2 separate regions of the Homo sapiens genome follow, and region 1 is linked to region 2. The links come from fine-mapping of genetic effects on gene expression. Tissue or cell type: monocytes after LPS. Region 2 holds a variant in brackets; the other region holds the start of a gene. All regions are shown on one strand. Distances are between the middles of the regions. Region 1 holds the start of CDC42EP3 (CDC42 effector protein 3). Region 2 has its middle 35 kb from the start of CDC42EP3.

What was found. PIP is the estimated chance that this variant, and not a neighbour inherited with it, causes the effect.
Region 1: CDC42EP3 starts here. The variant in region 2 is fine-mapped to the expression of CDC42EP3 in monocytes after LPS (Quach 2016, PIP 0.95).

Annotation. Positions count from the first base shown.
Region 1 is chr2:37,669,123-37,673,509 of GRCh38, forward strand. CDC42EP3 (CDC42 effector protein 3) reads right to left here and starts at 2,520. Exons shown (of 2, transcript NM_006449.5): 1 at 2,304-2,520. RefSeq lists silencers at 2,309-2,798, 2,969-3,028, 3,039-3,108, 3,329-3,498.
Region 2 is chr2:37,634,175-37,638,561 of GRCh38, forward strand. No RefSeq gene overlaps it. Among named protein-coding and RNA genes, the nearest start is that of CDC42EP3, 35 kb to the right of the region's middle. RefSeq lists an enhancer at 1,490-1,719. The variant G/T (reference allele first, on the strand shown) is at 2,752.

The DNA.
Region 1 (4,387 bases), 35 kb after region 2:
ACGATCAGAGCAGTCTTCTTGGAGGTTTTTAGGTTACGAATTATATTCCACCCACTGGATAAATGTTACAGTTAATGGTCAAAGAATTTGTGAAAAATCTATGGCCTGGCTAAAAAAAAAAAAAAAAAAAAATCTTTGGGTGATACAGGTGAAAGCAATTTTATCCCCAACACTGTTGAATACCAGGAACTTTATACATGAAAAAAGCACAGCTTTTGTGAGCATGTTGGACATAAAACAAAACACCACATTAAAGGAAAGGCTGGAGCGCAGACAGGGCAAATGAACTCATGTGAGCCCTTCTGCAATCACTGTTACGGCTTTGTATTTATTCATCTTGCACCGCACTTAAATGTGCAATAAAAAGCAAAAAGTGTGCAACACTTATTACTCTAGCTGCTTTTACTTGTTCCATAGAGATACGTGAAACAATTTCACTGCTCAGATTGAGGGAAAGAGGAGCTCATCTCATTTCAAGCCTGTAGCTGCTGCCACAGCCTCAGCACCATGTTCTAATCATAGAATTCATCATGTAAATCTCTAGCAGATGATGCCATTGGAAAACAGAAACTGCCATGGATCCAGAAATGCTTCCAAATTTCTCCTCTAAAGTTCTTATCTGTGAGCCCAGAGGCTGGTGCTGTTTTATTCAAATGGGTGAGGCCCATTGGGAAACCCGCATTCTTTGGGAGACTTTATGAAGAATTTCAACCATTCCTTGACTATAGAAAGGGCCTTTATCATTTATTTCACATATGAAAATGCTAAATATTTCACAACTACTCCAACTTATTTCTGAGTGTCTAAATCTATTCTGAAAAGGGTATGCATCACACACATACCTGTGTAGCTTATTAACTACCAATAAGAGCTCACACAAATTGCAGGGGGTATGAAAGAGTAGACTTCTGGAACTGTCCAGAAAAGAAGAGAAGGTACATTTCCTGGTTTTAAGATGAAAGAGCTTGTGTAAATTAGAACATTACAGGAGCCTTTTAAATTGTCTTAGGGATACCTTTGGGGCATCATCGCTGGTTCCTGGTGAGTCTTTTTTCTCCCTGTGATGTTAACAGGAAGTCCCTAAAACTGGCTTTGCTATTAAAATACAGACATCTGCTGCTCTCCTAATTTTTGTTCCTTTTAAAAGGCAGTACTCCCAAGAAACTCTTGGATATTGTGAGAATTAAGAGCTGGGAGATGGGGATGGAATCTTTGTCTCCCTAACACATTCATCAGTTCCCTCCCTAGAGCCCCCCTACAACCTCAGCACACAGCAGCAGCCCACTCCTCCAAATACGCCAGGGCTGGAAAGATTCATGTTGCAATACCCTCCTGACATTCCTCATTTTAATTCGCTCACTTTTTTTTTTTTTTTTTTTAAACAAAATGTAATTACTTGACTGTCAGCCTAGGCTGCACTCTGGGGCTTTTACTCCTTTCAACACAGCTGCGCTCCCGGCTTTGATGCTGCTGTCCACGCAGCTTGTCCCAGCCACAGCCTGGCTCTCAGTAATGTAACATTCAAGTGCATATTTATTTTTAAACTGACCTCTCCTAGACTGCACAGTATAAAGGAGATCCTGCCCAAAAATATGCTACTTTCTATTTATAAGATGAAACACATGCCTCCCAAAGTCGAGAGAGGGATAGAGTATAATAATTCATAACGAAAAAATGGCCAGATCCATTCATCCTCACATGTCTGATACTTGTCTGTGTCAAGCCACTTAGTTTCAAGGAGAAAGGGAAGAAAACAAAAAACAAAAAACCTTGTAAACGTCTCAGCTGTTCACCGTCAAAAAACAAAAAAGTCAATATCCAGATCTGCAGGTTGGCGCCCCACTAACAATGTCCTCCATTAAGAAAGAGGAGGGCACCGGGCAGGCGATGCCACGGCAGAGCTGTGCGATGCACCCATGTGCGGCCCTGGTACCAATCCATGATGCGAGGGGCGCGGTAGCCAAGCGCGGCTTGTTCTCAGATGGAAAAATGCTATACGCGCCCAGAATGGCTCTGCCAATAGCTCGGAGGGTGCAATGTGGCCGCGCAGCCCCACCCTGAAAAGTAGTGGGCACAAATGGTGGAGCTCTGAGTCCTGGTCGTGCCGCCGGACCCCCTCCTGGCTTGCTTTATGTCCCCTTCGTTCCGTTGGACACTAGATGGGAAAGCGATGCCCTGGGTATCCCGACTCCCTGCTGGTTTCCCAGCCTAACACCAGCGCACGCCGGAAGCGGCCACGGCCGCGGGCGGGACAGACTCACAGACAGGTAGAGAGGAAGGAGCCCTGGGCTGCCCCGACTCACCGGCCGCCGCTGAGGATCCCAGCCGCTGCCCCGGGCCTCCCGCGGGCGCACGCAATCCCTGCCGCTGTGCGCAGATCCAGCCGAGTCTGCCGGCGTGGTGCCTGCTCACCGCATTATCCGCTCCGAGACGGCGTGAAGGCGCCCCAGGCCGGTGGCCGGGTCTCCGGGCTAGCCCCGCGCTGCGGTCCCCCGGCCGCGAGAGAAGGTGCGCGCGACTGAGCGCGGGGCGGCCGGACGCGAGGACTGAACCTGCGGAGGGCGGGGCGGCGCGGGGCGGGGCCGGCGGCGCGGGGACTCACTGGGGCGGGGCGGAGGGCGCGGGCAGCGGGGCCGACCCTCCCAGCCGCGGTACCTGTGCCCTGGCCCGGGGCCAACCGGTGGCCGGGCGCGCGCGCGGGGGGGGGTCACCGTTGGACCCTCGGAGGACAATGGGCGCCCATTGTTACCTCCCCAGCGCCACCCCCCAGTAGGCGACTTCTCTCGGAGAAGATGCCGCTTTCGACTCCCTAAGCACAAAGAAAGGTCGCCGGACGCTCGGTTTAAAGAGGGACCCGGAGGTGCTGCCGCCCGGGTGCACGGGGACAATAGGACTCCGCCCGCACCCCGGACTCCCGCACTAAAACTCGTGCGCCCACCTCTCCCGATCCCAACAGGCCGACCTAGCTGTGCGAGTGGCGGGCGGTGACCCGCAGGGAAGCGAGGCCACCTGAGTGCGCCGCCCCGGCCAGGCCGCAGCTCCCCAGGTCCCTCTCAGCCCGGGCTCCGGTGGGCGCGGAGGGGGAGGGTCGCGTTCTGTCAGTTTCTAGCTCGCTCCCCTCAGAGCTGCAGCCAAAACCCGGAGAGTGGAATAAGCGCCCTGAAGATGCCGGAGCTCCCGGCTGAGCAACTGGACACGCGACGAACAGCAGACGCTACAGGTTCTCCTACCCAGAGGGAGGCGTTTCTTCTCCCTCAGGGTCTTTCAAAAGGATTTGCCTAAAGCTGGGGCAAGCCGGTGGCGGCTGCCCCAGACGCGCGACGAGGCGCAAGTGGCGCAGCTGCCGGCCCGAGAGAGTAAAATTCAGGCCGCGGTGGCACCTGCGCCCGCCGGTCACCCGGCCACCGCCAGCGCCGCCGCCCGGCGCGCCCCTCCCCTCCGCCGGGGCCGGAGCGTGAACCGGGTTAATGAATGCTAATTTTCTTAATCGGCCTCCGTCTCTTCCTCCTCCGCGAGTCGTCGGCCTGGGGAAGGAGTAGGCGACAGGAAAGGGCGGTGTTTTCCGGCTGGGAGGTCCCAGCCCGCATGGTCAGCCAGGGGAGGGGGCTGGGACCCCTGGGAGTCGGACGCTGGGGGCCTGGCCTCTGCCCTGAGACTCTCGGGTTGGATGGAAATCCTGGCACAACGCGGAGAACCTCCCGGATACCTTGGCTTTGCCGAGAGATATCAGCTTCAGGTCATCACCGCGGTGCCCTGGGTCTGTCTGAAACCTTAGAGGGTGCGCCTTAAGCCGATGTTGTAAACCCAGGCTGACTTTAAGGTGAAGTGAAAAGGAAACGCACACAATCTGGAAAGCAAAATACTTGGGTGGGGTGTTAAAAGCCTCAAAGAAAAATAGTAGTTGGCAGGTCAAATGGCCATGAGGTTGGAAGTCAAATACGAAACTCGGCTGAAGTGATGTTAGAAGTTTGACAAGCAAAAACAGTCCGTGAAGATAAGAGACCCAGCATTGTTTCCCTTCTTCAAAAGACAACTCGTCCAAAGTTTCCTTTGGCAGATACCTGGATTCTACTCCAGATTCCTGAGCATTTTACTTGGGTTTCATATTTCAAAATATATGTTCCATTTGGCACTAATGTATATATTTTATATATTAATTTATTGAAAAATATTAAATGTTCCTGGCCTACTTAGAAAAAGGTATTTTTATAAATATTTATGCATAGTTTTCATTACATAGGGTATTTTATAAGTCCAAATAATATGTGTATATATATAAAATACCACATGCAAAATTCCTTTTGAACACATAAAGACATTCCCGACACACATGTCTTGTATGTAATTTTTTTCACGTGATCTATTGTTAGCTGCTGTTAAAAGCACT
Region 2 (4,387 bases):
ATTAGCAGCATGAGAACAGACTAATACAGCTAACCCACTTTACCCTTAGCAGCATAGATTCAATTCCACCTTCTTTGTGGAATTGAATTCCTAATTCATATTAGGGTGTTGGGCAGAGTGAGTATTTGACTTTCATTTATTCATTGGATTTTACATCCAGGTTGTGCCACTAGCACAAACAGTTCATGGAGGGCCTTGTATACCTGTTTAGGAATTTGGGCTTTGTATGGTAAAGGAGAGTTTCTGAAGGTTGTTAATTAGGGACTTTATGGGTTTAGATGTTCAGTTAGAGAAGCTTAAAATATTTTTTAAAATATAGTATCTAAAAAATATTTTTAGAGCCCATCACTCAAAATTAAAAAGGAAAAACATTGGCAGGGGTCATTCTAAAGACAGTGAAATAGTTAGGAAGCTGTTGCTATATAATAGAAGCAAGGTATGATGAGGGCCTGAATGGAGTCAGTGGCAGTGGGATTGGAGAAAAGAGATTGGACATGAGAAATATTTAGGAGGCAAAAGAAGAGGGTTGTGTGGAAAAAGGAGTCACTTCCCGGGTTTTGTCCTGAGAAGCTGGCTGGATGGTATTGTCACTCACAAGCACAGGAGAAGGAGGATGGAAGCATATTTTTGTTGGTGGTGAACTTGATTTGAAATATGGTAAATTTGGGGTTCTGGCAGGCCAAACAAGCAGAGATGTCCAGGGCTCATCTGGATATTCAGGTCTGAAGCCCAGGAGTTGTATTTGGGCAGGAGATAGAGATGTGGGAGTCATCAGAAAATAGATGGCAGTTGAAGCTCTGAAACAAGACATCACCAAACAGAAGAATGAGAATGACCCTAGGGTGCGTGGTAGCAATGGGGTCAGTAGTCGAAGAAGAACCGGGAAGGATTCACAGTGGTGTAGTTGGTGGGAGAGAAGGAAAACCAGAGAGAAGGGAGTGAGAGGAGCAGCAGTGCCCTGGAGAGTCAAGTGCTGCAGAGAAGAGAAGAAAGGGAGGTAGGGTGGGGAACATCTGTGACTTTAGGAAGGTGGTTCATTGGTGACTGCTGAGCGCAGCTTCAGTGAACGGTGGCAGTAGATCTGGAGGAAAGTGACTCAGTGAATGTGAGGTGAGCAAATGGAGACATTGGTGTAAATGCCCCTTTCGAGGTTGTGGAAGTGGCTCACGTTTTTGAGGCAGGGCTGTGTTTGTTTTTCAGAGGTAGGGACTCGAGCATATTCTCTGCAGAAGCCCCCAGTCAGTGAGACTGGTAAAGACTGTTGTCATGTAGTCAGAGGCAGAGTCTCAGTTCTACTCCTTCTCTTATCTCTGTCACACTGAACACTTCTGCTCTTTCTTAAATCACCAGTTGGCTCCTGGGGCTCCCAGGCCTTTCTGGGTTTGCTCTGGGTTTATTCACCTCTTGTGTCAGTCTGTTCTCATACTGCTATGAAGCAATACCCGAGACTGGGTAATTTATAAAGGAAAGAGGTTGAATTGACTCATAGTTCTGCAGGACTGGGGTTGCCTCAGGAAACTTATGGTCATGGCAGAAGCGGAAGCAAACATGTCCTTCACGTGGCAGCAGGAGAGAGAAGTGCAAAGGGGGAAAACCCCTTATATAAAAACATCAGATCTTGTGAGAACTCACTATCATGAGAACAACATGAGGGTAACTGCCCCCATGATTCAATTATCTCCTGCTGGGTCCCTCCCATGACACGTGGGGATTACGGGAACTACAATTCAAGATGAGATTTGGCTGGGGATGTAGCCAAACCACATCACCCCTGTTAGAGGTGGAGGATTTGCTGTGCCCCACTCACTGCCACCCCCACTGCCACCAGGGCAGTCATGTCTCACATGGTGCGACATTTGGTATCCCCACTCCTTCACCCACTTGTGCCTTCAGAGAGGACTCGGAGCCCTCAGGAGAGCTACAGGGTAGTCCCGTAAATAGCCAGGGGCCAGTGAGATGATGTACTCTGAGGAGAGGCTTCCCACAATACAAACCTTAGGTGTCAAATGTGCTATGAGGACACTGAGGCATTGTACCCTCAGCACCTGTGGCAGGTAGGTGGGGCCCAGGCCAGCCACAACAGCCCTTTCATTTCCCCATGGTGCTGTCCCAATGTCATAATTTTCTTTGTCATGATATGGGAAGCACTGCCTGATGGGGCCCCACCTCCAGCACATTGGCTGTCTCTCTGTCACTTGGCTTCCTGAATGGTATTTAAACGCCCCCCGCATCACTGTTGGGTCTCAGCAAACTCTCTGGCCTCTTGTTCAATTTGCCCTCTGCATACTGGGAAGGCCTATTTAACTTTGCCTGGCATCTGTGTGGAAGAAACACTTCTTAGGCAAAGAGCTCCTGGAAGACAATCTCCCTAGCAACAATGAAGCATCCTCTCTACAGTCTTTTCTGCCTCTCTTTTGTTGTTATCTGGATGACAGGGATTGAATCTGGCCTCTGCCCATATCAAATGCTGTCTGGGGCTGGAAACAAGCCTCAAAACATGTTTTAAATATTTTATTTCCCCCCGTCTCCCCTAAGTCTGCCCACCATGCATACGCTTGATTAAAGTTATGCCCCAGTGATCAACTGTGAGTGACAGTGACCCTCCTAAAGGTAGTCTACTTAGCCTCTGGGCTCAGGCAACACACCTGTGTCTGATTAGACACTGTTACCCTGCTTGAACCTGTGCCACATGAAAGCAGCTTTCTCTTGTGCTCTGGTAGTGGGAGATGCTTTCTTGTAATGTTAATGCAG[G/T]GCTAGACTTTTCTCCTGCTGATCCTTTGCCTGGAATGTTCTCCTCTTCCTTGTCACCAGCCAGAGCACCACTAAATCAGTGTAAACTCCTTAAGGGAAGACTAAAGTCCTGGGAAGTGGGGTCATCCTGGCCTTATCTCCTTAAAGAACCTAACTCTTCAAGGGGGTCTTCCCTGTTAACCCTCTGTATTAGTTGGCTAGGGCTGCAGTTGCCAGTACCATGAACTGCGTGACTTAAACAACAGAAACTAATTGTCTCACAGTTTTGGAGATCAAGATCAAGGTGCCAGCAGGTTTGGTTTCTCCTGAGACCTCTTTCTTTGGCTTGCAGATGGCCACCTTCTTGTTGTGTCCTCCCATGGCCTTTCATCTGTGTGTGTGCATCCCTAATGTCTCTTCCCCTTTTTATAAGGACGTGAGTCCTATCCAATTAGGGTCCCACCCTTATGAGCTCATTCAGCCTTAATTACTTCTTCAAAGGCTTTAGCTCCAAATATAGTCACACTGAGGGTTAGGGCTTCAACATATGAATTTTAAGGGAACACAGTTCAGTCCACCTCATTATCCTTAACGTTTTCCATTTTTCTGTATTCTCTCCAGTGCTTGGGTATTGCATCAGTTTCCTATAATTGCTTTAGCAAATTACTAAAAACTTGGTGGCTATAAACAACAGAAATTTATTGTCTCACAGTTCTAGAGGCCAGAAGTCTGAAATCGGTGTCACTGGGCCGAAATCAAGCTGTCAGCAAGGCTGTACTCCCTCCAGAGGCTCTAGGGGGAAATCTGTCCCTTGCCTTTTTCACTTTTTGGTGGCTGGCAGCATTCCTTGATTTCTGGATGCATCAATCCATCCTCTGTGGTCACATTGTCTACTCCTCTTCTGGTCAAATTTCCCTTTGCCTCTCTCTTATAGGGACAATCGTGATTGCATTTAGGGTCCACCCAGATAATCCAGACTAATGCCCCATCTCAAGATCCTTAACTTAATCATATCTGTAAGGCCCCTTTTACCAAATAAGGTGACATTTATAAGTTCCAGACATTAGAATCTCCTATCTTGGGGGCCATTATTCCACCAGCCACAGGAGTATTGTTCATAATATATCATTTGATGTTTAAACAAATGATGTATCATTTGATGTTTAACAGCTGACCTACAAAAAGAGCCCTTGTTGCAAGGGCAGGAGACACAAAGATGTTTTTGCTGGGTGTGTTCAGACAAGATCACACCCTTCATACCATAATCTAGAGCCTTGGCTCTGTCCTCCCACATGACCTTCGCCTGAGGGGAGGGGCTGGGGACTAGGGAGCCAAGGAGTCTCCCTGGGGAGGTGAGGTTTCAGATGATCCAGGGGTTGGAAGAAGTTTCTCCCATGCATTTTTATCTCATGGCTGGTTAAGAGGGGTGGGCATCCCACTCCCGGAAGCCATTTCACTTTGAATACTTTGTTTACTTCTGGTTAGAAGAGTCTTCAGGAGTGTGGGCTCTGGTAAGAAGGTCCCATTTTCCCTGGACTTATACAACCAGGTCTGCTTCTTGTGTTTTGCTATCGTGACACTTTTACAATTTTTCCTCTCAGTTACCTAAGGTACCTGATGAATAGTCAACATGTTTGTGAAGTCCAGAGTGCCAGAT